Regions from separate parts of the Homo sapiens genome. Here region 1 is linked to region 2. Evidence: fine-mapped expression QTL. A gene starts in region 2. The other region holds a variant in brackets. All regions are shown on one strand. Distances are between the middles of the regions.

Region 1 (5,376 bases), 23 kb before region 2:
TCTCATCTCAAATTGTAATCCCCACATGACAGGGGAGGGCCTGGTGGGAGGTGATTGGATCATGGGGGCAGTTTCCCCCGTGCTGTTCCCGTCAATAGAGTTCTCACATTCTGCTTGTTTGATAAGTGGGTGGCTCTTCACTCTTCCCTCTTTCTCTCTCTCCTGCTGCCATATAAGATGTGCCTGCTTTCCCTTTGCCTTCTGCCGTGGCTGTAAGTTTCCTGAAGCCTCCCAACCCTGTAGAAGTGTGAGTCAATTAAACCTCTTTTCCTTGTAAATTACCCAGTCTTAGGTAGCTTTTGTTTGTTTGTTTGAGACGGAGTCTCCCTCTGTTGCCCAGGCTGGAGTGCAGTGGCGTGATCTCAGCTCACTGCAAGCTCTGCCTCCCGGGTTCATGCCATTCTCCTGCCTCAGCCTCCCGAGTAGCTGGGACTGCAGGCACCCGCCACCGCGCCTGGCTAATTTTTGTATTTTTAGTAGAGATGAGGTTTCACCTTGTTAGCCAGGATGGTCTTGATCTCCTGACCTGGTGATCTGCCCGCCTCAGCCTCCCAAAGTGCTGGGATTACAGGCGTGAGCCACCGTGCCCGGCCAGTCTTAGGTAGTTCTTTATAGCAATGTGAGAATAGACTAATACAGTCCCATTTTCTCTTTCTGCTCCTTCTGGTAATTGCATATATGTTACACTTTTTGATCTGTCTCACAGTTTGGATGCTGTATTCTTCTCTGCTCTTCCCTGCACCCACCTACCCAGTTAATTTTCTCTTCGCATTTCAATTTTGGAAGTTTCAATTCTCTGTCTTCATACTCACTGATTTTTTTTGCTTTCTTTTTTATTGTGGTGTAATATACATGACATAAAATTTACCATTTTAGTCACTTATATGTGTACAATTGAGTGGCATTAGGTACATTCACAATATTGAAGCTGAATTTGCAAAGATTATGAGAGCACAAGAAGTCTAGCATGGCTGACTCCATCTTGCTTCTAGCCTCACAGGCTGGCTGTCCTTACTCATTTCTGGGTGTAGGCCAGGCTAACCGTAGGAAGAATTTAATTTATAGTTTAACTTTGAAGCAAGGATGATAACAGTCCCTCCCTAAAACTAACCTTCTCTTTGCTCAGGGATCTAAAACCACCTTTTTATGACTATTGAAAGAGACCACAAGATTAAGATTATGAGAGCAGCCTGAATTCTGCTAAGATGTAGGCATAACTTGCCTTTCTATAGTCATTTACTGTGCTGGAGGTCACAAGATTTATAATGTTCCCAATTGCTCCTATAGATAACATCATTATTGTAGAGCCTAAGATTGGCCTTTGGTACTGTTTTTCAGACTTCTGCATTCTGGTGACCAACTGACTCCACCTGGACCCGTGATTCCTGACTCAACAGGTCCTGTGGCCCCCACCCAGAAGTTGACTTAGCACATGAGGACCATTTTCCACATCCCTATGACTTCATCCCCAGTCAGCATCATCCATTCCCTAGCCCCCTGCCTGACAATTTATCCATAAAAACTCTAGCCTCTGAATTCTCAGGGAGGTTGATTTGAGTAATAAACTCCATCTTCCAATTGGCTAGCCCTGTGTTAATTAAACTCTTTTTTAAATTATTTATTTTATTTTTGCTGCAAAACCTTGCTGTTCTCAGTGCATTAGCTTTTCCAGGCAGTGGACAAGATGAACCTGTGGGTGATTGCAATATTGTCAAACTATCACCACTATCCAGTTCCAGAACTTTTTCATCACCCCAAACAGAAACTCTATACCCATTAAAAAGTCACTCTATTCTGCCCTCCCCACTAGCCTCTGGTAACCACTATTCTACTTTCTGTCTGTATGAAGTTGCCTATTCTAGGTACCTCATGTAAATGGAATCATGCATTTGTCCTTTAATGCCTAGCATAACATCTTCAAGGTTCAACCATGTTCTAGCATATATCAGAATTGCATTCTTTTTTATTCCATTGAGTGCTTATATCACATTTTATTTACCCTTTTTTGTGTCGAAGACCATTTGGGTTGTTTCCACCTTTTATCTATTGTGATTAATGCTGCAGTGAAGAATGGAGTATAAATATCTTTGTTGAGTCTCCACTTTCATTTCTTTTAAGAATATACTTAGGGATAGAATAGATGAGGTTTTTTCTATGTTTATGGTATAGTATTGTGTATTTTCTATGTCCAAGATTATGGTAATTTCTTTCTTTTTTTTTTTTTTTTGAGACAGAGTCTCGCTCTGTTGACCAGGCTAGAGTGCAGTGGCACCATCTTGGCTCACTGCAACCTCCGCCTCCCAGGTTCAAGCAATTCTGCCTCAGCCTCCCAAATAGCTGGGACTATAGGCGCATGCCACCACACCTCGCTAATTTTTTTTTTTTTTTTGTATTTTAATAGAGACAGGGTTTCACCATGTTGCCCAGGCTGGTCTCGAACTCCTGAGCTCAGGCAATCGCCTCGGCCTCCCAAAGTGACAGGATTACAGGCATGAGCCACC[G/A]CGCCCGGCTGATTATGATAATTTCTATGTTTCATTTTTGAGAAACTGCTAAGCTGATTTCCACAGTGGCTGCACCATTTTACCTTCCCAACAGGAATGAACAAGCGTTCCTATCTTCCCATATCCTTGCCAACAATTATTTTCCATTTTTTATTCCAACAGTCATCCTACTGGGTGTGAAGTGGTACCTCATTGTGGGTTTTGTTTGTTTGTTTTTTGAGAAGGAGTCTCACTCTGTCGCCCAGGCTGGAGTGCAATGGCATGATCTCTGCTCACTGCAACCTCCGCCTGCTGGGTTCAAGCAATTCTTCTGCCTCAGCCTCCCGAGTAGCTGGGACTACAGGCGTGCACCACCACGCCTGGCTAATTTTTGTATTTTTAGTAGAGACAGTTTCACCATATTTGCCAGGCTGGTCTCGAACTCCTGACCTTGTGATCTGCCCACCTCGGCCTCCCAAAGTGCTGGGATTACAGGCGTGAGACACCGCGCCCGGCCCTCATTGTGGTTTTGATTTGCATTTCCCTAGTAATCAGGGATAAGCAAATATGCATGTTTTCATGTGCTTATTTGGCATTTGTGTGTCTCCTTTGAAGAAATGTCTATTCAAGGCTTTTGTCTATTTTTTAAAGTTGAATTATTCGTCTTTTTGTTGTTGAGTTGCAGTAATTCTTTACATATCCTGAATATTAATTTCTTATGAGATTCGTGAAGTGCAAATATTTTTTCCCATCCTTTAGGTTGTCTTTTCACCTTCTTGATAGTGTCCTTTGATGCACAAAAGTTTTTAATCTTGATGAAATTCAATAACTGTTTTGTTTTACTGTTGCTTATATTTTTGGTGTCATATACAAAAAATCATGGCAAAATCCAACATCATAAAGATTTCCCTCTCTGTTGTCTTCTAAGATATTTATAGTTTTGGTTCTTATGTTTAAGTCTTAGTTCCATTTTGAGTTAATTTTTGTATATGGCATAAATTAAGGGTCCAACTTCATACTTTTCATGCAGATATCCAATTTTCCCAGCATCATTTGTTGAAAAGATGGCCCTTTCCCCATTCAATGGTTTTGGCAACCTTGTCAAACATCAACTGACTATAAATTGAGGGCCACTATGTCTGTCCTTATGCCAGTAACACCCTGGTTTTGTTATAATCTGTCATTTTGTTTATAATTATCAAAGTCTTATGATCACACACAATTTCTAAATTAATGTATATCTTCTCCACTTTAATCCTTCTAATACATTGACAAAAGCACCATTACCAATCACACGTACACAGTACTTCTACAGTTTTACGTGCTTGAATCATTTAAAGGCAATCCTAAATTATAACTTAGTCAGATTTAGATAGCAAAGAATTCAAAAGTAAATTTTACCTTACTACTATTTCTTGTTACACTGATTTTCAGAAGCATCTGACTTTATAGATCATCTATAAAATTTGAGAAGTGTTTTAACTATTCTTTATTTGATATTACACATAAAATGCATTTCAATTAGTAAAAGGCAGCATTTTAGATCCAGGGAATTCTAATTGGATTGGCATAGTTAAGACCAAAAATATAAAGTAGACATTGCTGTCTTATCTTCAGCCCTTGCCTTTTACAGGGTAATGAACACAAATTAAAACATAGGTGAGTCTTGCTTGGTTCTGAGACAGTATTTAAATATATTCATAAAGACAGTTATAGAACTCTAAATATAAAACCAATCCCCAATATGTTTTGAGACGGCATTCACCACCTTTATGAAAAGTTGAACGTTACTAATGAAGTCCAATCATATCTTCAGAAGGGGAAAACAGTGATAACATTTACTGAATTGAAATTACTATCAAAGTTCAAAAAAACAGTCATATTCATTTAACCACAAGCTAGTGTGACTTAAATCAGGACTGTCCAACAAAAAAGGTCTGCCACTCATTCATGATCTAAATTCTGGTGTATGAGATCAATTAAATTTTGGTGCACATGAAGTTATGAGACCTTTGTTTTGTAATAAATAAAGGCAGTGGCCAATTATTACTCATTAGTGGCTTTTTTGAGATAAGTTATCAAGTCTGTTCTTTCTACCTTCTTGTTAATGCCAGTGAAGACTGTTTTTGTTCCAAGGATGTAATTCTCTGGATTCTTCAAATACTCCACCGGTGTCTCCTCTCCCCAGGTGATGCTGTGTTCTGTTGGCGTCTGTGTAAGGGGATCCAATGGCCTGACCTGGCTGCTGCCCAGAGCCCATGGAGTTCTGGCCCAGTCTGTGCTTGCCTCTTTTTTCCACAGTGTGGCACTGGGTACCCTTGTGAACAAAATCTTCTTGCCTTTTACTACGTTACTCCTGTTAAATTCTCTCCTTTATCACTCACACTATGAAGATTCCCGCTTGGAAGCTGGCTAATGCTTCTCTTAATAGCACCTTGTTGTGATTACATAGCTTTATAGTAAGTTTTCACATCCGCAAGTGTGAGTCCTCCAGCTTTGTCCACACTTGTGGTCATTTTGGCTATTTGGGATCCCTTGAGATTCCATATGAATTTTGGGATGAGTTTTTCTATTTCTGGATAAAAAATCCATTGGGACTTTTATGGGGATTGCATTCAATCACTTTAGTTAGCGTTGTTATTTAACAATATTAGTCTTCCAGTACATGAATGTGGGATATCTTTCACTTATTTATGTCTTAAATTTCTTTTAGCAGGCCAGGCACGGTGGCTCACGCCTGTAATCCCGGCACTTTGGGAGGCCCAGGCGGGCGGATCACGAGGTCAGGAGATGGAGAACATCCTGGCTAACACGGGGAAACCCGGTCTCCACTAAAAATACAAAAAATTAGCCGGGCGTGGTGGCGGGCGCCTGTAGTCCCAGCTACTCAGGAGGC
Region 2 (5,376 bases):
ACAGTTTATGTGGATCATTTTCTTCTCTCCTTCCTTCCTTCCTTCTTTCCTTCCTTCCCTCCCTCCTTCTTTCTTTCTCCTTCCTTCCTTCCTTCCTTTCCTTTCTCTCTCTCTCTCTTTCCTTCTTTCCTTCTTTCTTTTCTCCCTCTGTTGCCCAGGCTTGAGTGCAGTGGTGTGATCAAGGCTCACTGCAACCTCCGTCTCCTGGGTTCAAGCGATTCCCCTGCTTCAGCCTCCTGAATAGCTGGGACTACAGGCACGCACCACCACGCCCAGTTAATTTTTTTTTTCTTAATTTTAGTAGAGATGGGGTTTCATCATGTTGGCCAGGATGGTGGGTTTTTTGTTTTGTTTTGTTTTTTTGATGGAATCTCGCTCTGTCGCCCAGGCTGGAGTGCAGTGGCGTGATCTTGGCTCACTGCAAGCTCCACCTCGCGGGTTCACACCATTCTCCTGCCTCAGCCTCCTGAGTAGCTGGGACTACAGGCACCCGCCACCATGCCCGGCTAATTTTTTTTGTACTTTTAGTAGAGACGGGGTTTCACCGTGTTAGCCAGGATGGTCTTGATCTCTTGACCTTGTGATCCTCCCACCTAGGCCTCCCAAAGTACCAGGATTACAGGCGTAAGCCACCGCTCCCGGCCTATGTGCATCATTTTTTAAGACAGCATTGACACCAGGACCCTGGGCTGAGTCTTTCATCTCTAAGACGAACTTGCAAGTTCCATGGGAACAGGGACCACACAATGTATTTACTTAATTAATTCTGTTACAGGGATGTGATATTTAAACCAAACTTAAAAGACAGAAGAGGACAGCCAGGCAAAAGACATTGGACACATATTCCAGGCAGAGAGAACACCCTTCAGAAAGGCCCCGAGGAGCAAGAGAAGTAGAATATTTAAGGATCTGAAAGCAGCTCAAGTGACCAGAGCAGCAAGCCAGAGGGATGAGGCCTGGAGATGGGCTGTACACACCACACCCGGCCTGAGGTCTCAGCGAGGGCCGTGCTTTTATCTGCAAGCCACAGGGAGCCAACCTTCCAGGGCAAGTGACGGGCCAATTCTCACTTTCAAAGATGCAGGTGAAAATGGACAGCGGAGACACAGAGGCGAGTTAGGAGCCCAAGCAGGGTTTAGGGGAGAGAAGGTGGTGGCAGAGACTCCTCTGTCTGTGCACCTCCCATCACAGTGTTTTACACGGCACACACAGACATGGATTTATTGCAAATTGGGCAAATGAAGTTATTCTACTGGTTGCTTTTCTACATGACCAACTCAGGCTTAGCTGCCCAGCTTTTTCTTTTTCCTTTGAGAAGGTAATTCCGTGGCTTTTTTTTTCCTTTCTTAACCTGAAAGTGTCCCGGTGTTTGATTTCATGGAGCAAAATAAAAACCCTGGAGGAATACACATGCCACAGAAACGCCTTGAGACAAAAAAACGTTTGGCTAATAGTTTTGGTATTTTCTATGCCTTCCCCGGTATGCAGGAAAGTCACAGCAGTGTGATACAAAGGAGTGTATGGTGATAAAAAAGCGCAGGCCCAGGGACCTCTGGAAACTGGGCTGGCGGTAGAGCTATGGGGCAATAGCGTTCTCAGTAGTAGGCTGCCTTGTCATGGGAGGGCTGGAGTGAGGGCCACTGTGCGGAGGGAAAGCGACCGTGCTCTGGGGTGGGGGTGGGAATGGGGAATAAAACAGAAATAGAATCTGCGGTGAGAGCACCACCAAGCCACCCAACCCCCACACTGGGGAGACAAAGGGCCCTCTGGGGAGGGAAGGTCCTGGCCCACCTCCTTGGAGGGCGCCTCTGGGCGGTCCTGGCCTGCCCAGGGGCAAGGAGATGGGCCTCACAGCGATATTGGCTCTCCCTCAGCTCCTGCATCCGCCGGCGGAGGGTTTCTCCGCTTCCCTAGCCCAGACCTAAAAGGGTCACCGCTCCCAGGCCCCTGACTGCGCCGGGAACCGCTGGGTGGAGGGTGTCGACCCTGCTTCCTGCCCTCAGCCCGTCCATCGCGCCAGAGAATGCACCAAATTCCCCAATCCTTGCCCTCCCCGGGGGTCCACATCCGCGGGGCAGGACCAACGCAGCCTCTCGGGGCCTTGGCGACTTACCGCTGGGGGCCCGCAGTGCAGCAGGGCGCGGCCGCGACAGGCTCGGGCACCGCGTCGGAGCGCGAGCCGCGCTCAGCACCACGGTCAGCTCCCGGCGCCGCGCGCCGCGGCCGGGAGGGGGAGGCCCGGCGCCCGCACCCACCCACCGCGGCTCCAGGGGCCCCGCGGGGTCGGGCAGGCGAGGGTTAAGCCGCCAGAGGCCAGCGGGAGGGGCGGGCCGGCGCTGGCGCGCAGGGGTGGCGAGGGGGCGCGCCGGCCGCGGTGGGGGCTGCTCCGCCAGGCTGCCGCCTCCCTGCGCCGCCGCTCGGGCCGCGCTCGAGCCGGCTTTGTCTGTTCGTATCGCCCCGTCTCTGTTTCTGGGTGTCTCTGCCTCCCACCCGGTTGCGGCTGCGCCTCCCTCAGGTGCAGTCGTCTCCCCTCGCCCCCGTGCGCACGGCGCCCCCGCCGCTGTCCCCTCTTCCGGGAGCGCACAGGTGTGGGAGCCCCTCCCCCTCAGCCCAGAGAGCCAGCCCAGCCCTGCCGACCGCAGCACTCTCGGAAGGGCTCGGCCACCCGGAGCCTCGTCACGAGTCTTACCCAGGGTTCGGAGCGGGCCTGCAAGAAGGGGCAGGCCAGGCTGGGGCTGCAAGGCAGGGTCTTCCCTTGGAGAAGGGACCTGACTCTATTATTAAGAGAACGAAAGAGGCACTTGCCCTACAGGTACTCACTGTGTGGGGTCTACTGGTGCTGTGCTCTGCCGCAGTCTTGAGGGAGGAGCAGAAATGCTGTGGGGACTCTGTCTCCGCAGAACTGAGGACGAGGGGTCTGCACGCGTGGTTCAGTGCCTGGGGCTGGGGTGGATTAAGTAACTCCAGGAAGGCTCAGGCAGCAGTGCCAGTAGTGTGGGGCGGGGTTGTGGGGAGGAGGGGGGAGCGGGAGCGCACAGTCGGTGCTGGGGAGAGGCTGATGCCAACAGGAGGCTCTCGGCCGTGGTGTGCCCAGGCGGGGCAGGACGGGAGGATGCAGGAGTCCCGGGTCCACGCTGAGGCTAAGGCTGAAGGGAAGGCAGAGCTCAGGTGGATGACGGAGGCCAGGCCTTTCCCTGAGCTTGGTGGGCTCCCTCCCGGTCACCTTGTCTGAGAACCCAGGACACAGAGTCCCCTTGCTTTGGACTGGTTTGGTTTGTCATTCCCCTTGACATCGCCTCGCCCCAGAGACAAGAGGCCCCTTCATCCTCCAGCCAAGACCTTCCCCACCCTTGGGTGACCTACCCTCTTGCATTTTTTAGATTTGAGCCCTCTTTCTATGCAGCGACTAACTCAACGTGACCCCAGAGGCCCCCTCGCCCATGTTGCTGGTAGTCTTGACCTTTTTTGGCAGATCCTGGCTGTGGGAGTTCCCTGTCTTTCTCTTAGGTAGGACAGAAGGCAGTTTCTGCCTCGTTGCCACATACACCCCAAGTCAGGGGTAGGACTCCCGCAGACCCCACAGTCCTCCTCTTGTTAAAATTAGTAAGCATTAGCCTTCCTTATTAGGCTCTCCCCGCTTTTGCATTTAAGGATTTTTTAATGTGTCTTATAAAATCATGTAATTGTGAGGATAATTACAGATTCAGCTTCTTCCAGTGAGTGACAATTGCTCATTTTCGATGCTCACATGGTCATCGTTCGGCCACTGCAAACTGTTCCAACCCTTCTACTTTGTCATTTCAGACAGTTTTCAAACACCCCTAACTTTTGGGTAACATGAAAATATATATTTCAAATTTTTTATTTCCCCAAGATGTGGGATCAGGTCTTCCCCAGGGACTCCTGGAAAAATCTTTTACACTAGGCTACCCAGTTCAGATACCACTGAATGATTTTTCTTAAATATTATTCTAATGTGAACTTACATTTTATTTTTACAATACACTGACTTACACGCCTGTAATCCCAGCACTTTGGGAGGTCCAGACGGGCGGATCACAAGGTCAGGAGATCAAGACCATCCTGGCTAACATGGCAAAACCCCCTCTCTACTAAAAGTACAAAAAAAATTAGCCAGGCATGGTGGTGGGCGCCTGTAGTCCCAGCTACTCAGGAGGCTGAGGCAGGAGAATGGCGTGAACCCAGGAGGTGGAGCTTGCAGTGAGCCGAGATTGTGCCACTGCACTCCAGCCTGGGTGACAGAGCGAGACTCTGTCTCAAAAAAAAAAAAAAAACAAACAAAAAAACACACACAAAACACTGACTTAGATTTCTCATCTGTGTTTTTGAGCAGTGGCTGTAAACCTTTTCTTTCCTGGAACTAGCTTTCTGGTCACTTGGTTGTCCCCAGGGTCTCAGACCTTCTGGCCACACCACCCCTTGCTTTCTTGGCAGGCCAAAGAGTTGACTGTGGGCACAAATGAGTCGGCCATCCACTGTGCCAGTCACGTCAGCTGCATTTGTGGGGTACCATCAGACCTACTGCTTTGAGCTGTTTCTTTTTCTTTTAAAATTTTCAATATTTAAAAACTTTTTTATTTCATATTTCCAAACAGTGAACAGTTGGTTTCTTTTTCTTAAAAAAATTTTTATCTTATTTTTTGAGATGGAGTTTCACTCTTCTTGCCCAGGCTGGAGTTCAATGGTGTGATCTTGGCTCACTGCAACCTCCACCTCCCGGGTTCAAGTGATTCTCCTGCCTCAGCCTCCTGAGTAGCTGGGATTACAGGCATGCAGCACCACGCCTGGCTAATTTTGTATTTTTAGTAAAGACAGGGTTTCTCCATGTTGGTCAGGCTGGCCTCAAACTCCCAATCTCAGGTGATCTGCCCTCCTCGCCTCCCAAAGTGCTGGGATTACAGGCGTGAGCCACCACGCCCGGCCGGTTTCTTTTTCTTTATTGTGGTAAAATATACATAATATGAAATTTACCATTTACCCCTTTTTAAGTGTACAGTTCAGTGGCATTTACACTCACACTGTTGTGCAACCATCACCACAGTCTATTGCCAAAACACGTTCCTGACCCCAACAGAAATTCTGTACCCATTAAGCACTAAAACTCCATTCTCCTCTCCCCGTAGCTGCTGGGAACCACTATTCTACTTTTCTCTGATTTTGACCACTCTAGGTACCTCATAGAAGTGGAATCATACAGTATCTGTCTTTTTGTGGCTGGCTTATTTCACTTAGCATAATGTTTTGAGGGTGTATCCGTGTTGCAGCATGTATCAGAATATCCTTCCTTTTTAAGAGTGGATATTATTCCATTGTGTGTAGAGACCACATTTTGTTTATCCATTCATCTGTCAATGG

Direction of the effects. Alleles are on the strand shown, and positions count from the first base shown. SD is a standard deviation of normalised expression in the study named.
With allele G in place of A in region 1, the expression in pancreas of the gene that starts at base 2,955 in region 2 is higher (small effect, 0.38 SD a copy in GTEx).

Evidence for each region.
Region 1: its variant is fine-mapped to the expression of AMER3 in pancreas (GTEx, PIP above 0.99).

Annotation. Positions count from the first base shown.
Region 1 is chr2:130,776,108-130,781,483 of GRCh38, reverse strand. It overlaps LOC124907891 (a long non-coding RNA gene), which reads left to right. Exons shown (of 2, transcript XR_007087240.1): 2 at 1,339-1,578. It also overlaps the pseudogene CYCSP8. Among named protein-coding and RNA genes, the nearest start is that of AMER3, 23 kb to the right of the region's middle. The variant G/A (reference allele first, on the strand shown) is at 2,502.
Region 2 is chr2:130,753,119-130,758,494 of GRCh38, reverse strand. AMER3 (APC membrane recruitment protein 3) reads right to left here and starts at 2,955. Exons shown (of 2, transcript NM_152698.3): 1 at 2,821-2,955. LOC124907890 (a long non-coding RNA gene) reads left to right here and starts at 2,613. Exons shown (of 2, transcript XR_007087239.1): 1 at 2,613-2,812. RefSeq lists enhancers at 1,298-1,801, 2,680-3,179.